Linked DNA regions of Homo sapiens: region 1 is linked to region 2. Evidence: fine-mapped expression QTL. A gene starts in region 2. The other region holds a variant in brackets. All regions are shown on one strand. Distances are from middle to middle. Region 1 overlaps LOC102724036 (a long non-coding RNA gene). Region 2 holds the start of NTRK2 (neurotrophic receptor tyrosine kinase 2).

What was found. PIP is the estimated chance that this variant, and not a neighbour inherited with it, causes the effect. A credible set is the group of variants that fine-mapping cannot tell apart.
Region 1: its variant is the best candidate, but not a certain one, in a credible set for the expression of NTRK2 in thyroid (GTEx, PIP 0.54).

Annotation. Positions count from the first base shown.
Region 1 is chr9:84,484,305-84,487,220 of GRCh38, reverse strand. All of the region lies in intron 2 of LOC102724036 (a long non-coding RNA gene), which reads right to left. Among named protein-coding and RNA genes, the nearest start is that of SLC28A3, 150 kb to the right of the region's middle. The variant A/G (reference allele first, on the strand shown) is at 1,250.
Region 2 is chr9:84,668,243-84,671,158 of GRCh38, reverse strand. NTRK2 (neurotrophic receptor tyrosine kinase 2) reads right to left here and starts at 1,430. Exons shown (of 19, transcript NM_006180.6): 1 at 1,271-1,430; 2 at 199-782. The coding sequence starts at 410. RefSeq lists a silencer at 2,686-2,905.

The DNA.
Region 1 (2,916 bases), 180 kb after region 2:
GTCTTTATACTGTTTTCCCCTATGGCTGTACCAATTAGTGCAATCCCACAGTTGAATAATCCCACTTATCCAAAGTAAATGAAATCAGTATCTCAAAGAGATATCTGTACCTTCGTGTTTGTCACAGAGCTATTCACAATAACCAAGATATGGAAACAACCTACATGTTCATCAGTGGATAAATGGATAAAGAAAATGTACACACACACACACACATACACACTGGAATTATTCAGCCATAAAAATGGCAGACATAAAAAATGTCTGCCATTTGAGACAATGTAAATGAGCCTGGAGGACACTATGCTAAGTGAAATAAGCCAGGCACAGAAAGACAAATACTGTGTGATCTCACTCATCTGTGGAAACTAAAAATGTCATAGTCATAGAAACAGAGAATAGAATTGTGGTTGCCAGAAGCTGCAGGAATGGGAGACATGGGGAGATGTTAATCAAAGGGTACAAACTTTAAGTTATAAGGTGATCTAAGGCACAGCATGGGTAGCATGTTAATTAATTCGATTGTGATAATTGTTACACAGTATATACATATATTAAACCATCATTGTACACCTTAAATATACACAATCATTGTCAATAATTAAATATTAAATAAATACTTTAAAATTGAAAATGAAATGAAAATAGATGCCAGGACAGTGGCTCATGCCTGTAATCCCAGCATTTTGGGAGGCCGAGGCAGGTGGATCACCTGAGGTCAGGAGTTCGAGACAAGCCTGGATAACATGGCAAAACCCTGTCTTTACTAAAAATACAAAAATTAGCTGGGCTTGGTGATGGACTCCTGTAATCCCAGCTACTCAGGAGGCAGAGACAGGAGAATCACTTGAACCCTAGAAGTGGAGGTTGCAGTGAGCTGAGATCGTGCCACTGCACTCCAGCCTGGGTGACAAGAGCAAAACTCCGTCTCAAAAAAAAAAAAAAAAAAAAAAGAAAGAAAAAAATAGAAGCCAGCTTACTCCTAGCATATTTCTTTGGATCATTATTTCCAAAGCTCTCCCTTCAAGGTCTGTCACATTTATCCTTCTTTTTTCCATAACAATTACTCCACATCAAATCCAAATAGTGACCACTCAATAAATATTTGTTGAATGAATACATGAATGAACAAATGAATGAACTGCAGACCGTACATAGACCTCACAAGATACAAGCAATTTTCCAACTTCCCATTCTTTCTCAGTTCTCATCCATCCTGTAGCCTTGCCAAGCTAGTCCTGCCCCAAAC[A/G]TCACTCTCCATGCATCCATGCACCAGCCTCTTACTGAAGAACTACCAACTCTAAAGTAATTGGTTTAACAGTGAGAATCCTCCCTTACTTAGTTCCAGCTGACTAGACTTGGCCATCTTTGCTTACATTGGTCCCCTTCCTGGGAATGAGCTGTCTGTTCAGTTTCCGAGATGGCAGGGCTTCCCAACAGGTCAGAACACAAATATAGCCTAGGGCCACTCCCATTACACCAGGTTGTTCATTCCAAAGGCCAACAGTGAGGTCCGGAAACAAACAGCTAGAAACATGTTGACATTTGATTAACACAGCTGCACTGAAGTGCTCTGAGATTTTGGTAGCAATAAGTATTTATCTAAGTGCTTGTCAAACTTTAATAGGTGCAGGAATCACCTAAGAGTCTGAGATTCTGCATTTCTAGTAAACTCCCTGGAGATGATAACGATACTGACCCATGGATCACACTCTGAGTACCAAGGCTCTAGAATAGGAATTACTAGACTTGGCTGCACAATGGTATTATCTGGAGCATTAAAAATACTAGTAGCTGGGCCAGGTGTGGTGGCTCACACCTGTAATCCTAGCACTTTGGGAGGCCCAGGCAGGAGGATCCCTTGAGCTCAGGAGTTTAAGACCTGCATAACGTTGGGAGACCCTGTCTCGAGAAAAAGAGAGAGAGAGAGAGAGAAAGGAAGGAAGGAAGGAAAGAGGGAAAGAAATTAAAAAAAATACTAGTGGCTGAAACCAATCCAAGAGATTGTGATCTAATTGGTCTGGAGTACAGCCTAGGCATCAACATTTTTAAAACTCTTTCAATAATTCTAGTGTGTAACCAACACTGAGAACCACTGCCCAAGACGAACGTTTCTCCATCTTTTTTTTTTCATTATTTTTCCCTTAGGAGGCTTTTTAGACATTTTTATCCCTAAATACCCTCAAATTTTACCATTACAGATATACTGTATATCCATGTGTTGTACACATACCTTTGATTTATATCAAAAAAATTATTTAAAAGATTTTGCTCTCTGAGAACCAATTTCATCCTCTTGGGGGTGACATTGCTCCCATTGAGAACATACGCTTTAGAGTCTAAAGTTATACATGGTCTAAAATTTCAACTATGCCTAAGGCCTGGTTTTGCCCAAGCATCCACATGTCAGTCTCCACACAAATCCCCTCCAGTGGAGGCAGCAGTTCTCAGCCCCAAAGAGCCAGGCTGGAGAGAAACCACAGGAAGGTGGTCAGATCGATGCATCTGCAACCCCTGCATCCTAAGCCATGATTGGCTACAAGGCCTGAAATTCCTTTGTGCTTTCCAGGACCTCATTGGAGGCAGCCACAAAGGACAGTGTATATCCTGTCCAATCCAAACAAGTAAACTATGGTGTTTGCCAGCCTATCCCTACTTGTGTTCACAGCCAAGCCTTTCTTTAGACTGCCCAATAGCAACATCTGCCTGGAGACAAATGGGTTCTCCATCACTGCCTAAAGCAAAATGTCTACGGGAGACACTTTAATATATGTACTAATTCCTAACACTTGCTCAGGTTACACAGTAACTCGTATACATAGTGGCAGTATGGGTCACAGCTATGGGCGTGGGAAACAGCATTGCAGTCTAAAGGCCGAAGAAGCTGAACTCCAATCCAGGTGTAAAGTCCTGACT
Region 2 (2,916 bases):
AAAGTGTCACACTTCTCCCTGCACTAGCAGTCCCAAGCCAGTGAAACAGCAGGTAACTGACAGATGACCCTGTCCTGCATCCCTTGTCTTTGACTTCTCCCCACTCTTGGGACAGCATTCACTTCCAGGACCTACCCACCTGGCCAGCTCGGGCCCTAGGGGCAAGGAGAAAAAGGAGGAAAAGCTCCAGGAACTCACATTTCGGTGATGTTCTCAGGATCTACACTGTTAGGCTCCAATCTCGGAAATGCCACGATGCCAGGAGAAGGGTCGCTGCACCAGATCCGAGAGGCACTGCATTTGCAGGACGTGGGACAGGCGAAAGCGGCCCTCCAGAAGCCCACAACCAGCCAGCAGAAGCCCCAGAGCCGCGCCATGGCGGGTCCATGCCACCTTATCCAGGACGACATCCCTAGCAGCCAGTGCCAGCCCGAGTGCCTGTCCCCGCGCTGCACCGGCCGCTTTCCCCCACCCGTGCGGGGAGGCCTTCCCTGCGCTTGCGGCTCTCTTAACTCCTCGGTGCTTGTTGCGGGCGTGCCGAGTCCAGCTTATCAGAGGCTGAGCTGGTCCGGAGCGAAGAGTGTTCCGGCAGGCGGCAGGGTTCACAGTGGCCCCGGCATAGCGAACCGCTTTACAGGGGGGCGCTACCGCTGCTCGGAGCTCCGCGGCGGCCGTCGCTGCATGGCCCGGCGCGCCGGGCACCGACCGGCGGCGCTCCCGGGACTCTCTGGGGCGCAGATTCCTTGTTAGATGCGAATGGGGGTCCGGTATGCACCTCGAGGCTGAGGACAAACAGACACGCGTAAGACTGAGCGTAGGACCCCCAACACCACTAATTGGGGCACTCTCCCTCTCTGCTCGCGTCATCCCCACCCCGACCCCAGCCCGGAGACTGTGGATGGATGAGTGCCCAGCTCCGGCCCAGGAATCAACTTGCCCCGCGATGGCACTGACGCCGCTGGAGCCACCAGTGTGCCCACTCTCTCTTCGAGCCTGAGGCCAAGGGAGGGGAGGTAGGGAAAGGGTCCCCAAGACAGGATTCCATGGTACAGGCCGGGCGAAGGACCCTTTAAAGGGGAATGCGGAGACTGCCGGCGGCTTTGGCTCCGCGACGGGGCCCCCGAATGATGCTGCAGAATCCGCCACGGCCGCTGGGTGCCGGTGGCGCGGGCAGGTGGCGCGGCACGTCCCACCTGGGGAGTAGCCGAGGCCGCCCCAGGGGGAGACAGTGAGGGCCGAGGCGACCGAGGGCACTATCTGCGCTGCTCACCCGGGCTCCGGCGCCTCACGCCCGCCGGCGGCGCCTGGGTCCAGGCTCCTGCTACCGCCGGGGACTGAGCGCGTAGAGCGCGAGCGAAGCAGCCAGCGAGGCTCCTGCTCCAACCCAATTCCGGGAGCCGCCGCCGCCGCCTCTGCTACTGCTGGCGAAGTGACGTGAGGGCTGACGCAGAGCAGGGGCAGAAACTCCAGAAAATTAGTCTGAAATCCAAAAACACACACACGCTCATACACACACAAACCCATAACACCCTCCAGACAAAAGCACCAGGGAGGGGAGGGGAATCTGGGGGCGAGCAGGGAGGAGGGAGGCATCGGTGCCACTGGCCAGAAGCAGACAGCAGCAGCATGTGGGAGTTCACACACGCGCGCACACACGCACACATCCTGGCCGTGTAGACATGCACGCGCGTGCGTGTGTGTGTCTGTGTGTGTGTGTGCATTTACATCCAGGTACCTCTAAGATGAACCGTTCCTCCGTTCGACGCCTCCCGGTCCCTAATTCACACCACAGTCTCTTCTACAATCGCGGTAGAGGCTGTCTCCCTTTTTGAAATGGAAACCGTGCTTGGTTCAGCTCTGAAAAATGCGCTGATTCTTATTATAGGAATCCTCCCTCCCTTCTCCCTCCCCGCGTTCTCCTTTCCCACCCTGCCTAAAAGGGAGGGCAAGCTATCCTAAAAATAAATAAATGTTGTAAACACCAAAACGTGTTCTGCATTGGTAACCAAGGATCACCGCCCCCATTCCGGGCCACCTATTTGGGGATCGGTGGTTTTGGAGGGGCTTCCTGTTGGTGCTTTTGCAGAGGGAAGGGAGTCTCCAAACACAATTCTAGCTCTCTAAGTGGGTCTTTTTCCTGCCGTTTTCTGCCATCACACGCCCGGGAAATAGAGACATGTGAGGGGAAGGGAGCGCGCCTGATGCGTATTCTAAATGCTCGGTGGCCACCCTGGCCTGTCCGATGTGTGGCGCCGCGTCATTTTCTCTCATCCTTTAACCTGACGGGATGTAGCCATTCCCAGATCGTGGATTCACTCCCCGCGATGCCCACCCCCACGTAGGGCATCCCAAGCCCTTGCTCCCCTGCCGTACCTTGCGCGTGTTCATGTGTGCTAGGGTGTGCGCGAACGCGTGCCCTGCGCCCGCGCTGCCCGGAGCACGATATGCATCCAGCTACGAAGAAGCCAGGCGCGGGCAGAGCCTCGGGGTCTCACTAGGGACAAATTAGGCGATCCGGGAGGGTCGGGTGACAAACCGTAACTATTCTGCGGGTGCAGTTAAATGATGGCTGCGGGGCATTTGCAAGCCTTGTCTGAGAATCCGTCTTCCCTTTTGCGGCTCGGAATCTGTTTTTCCGCAGTCATTTAAAAGAGAACGGGGAAAATACACCGCAGTGCCTGACACTTCCGAGGGCTCTGGTGCCCCCGCGCGGGGAGAGAGCGCCCGGCACGCTCCGGAGCACCAGCCCATGGCCCGGGTCGCGGCGGGCACAGCGCTGGGGGCGCGCTCTGGCGCCAGATGCGCAACCAGCGGCGCCCGACGCCTGCGCGTCCCTGCCCGGCCGGTGCGCGGCTCTCCTGGCCTCGCCGAGCTCCTGCCCGGGGGAAAAAGGCGGGCAATCCTTCTCTCTCGAGA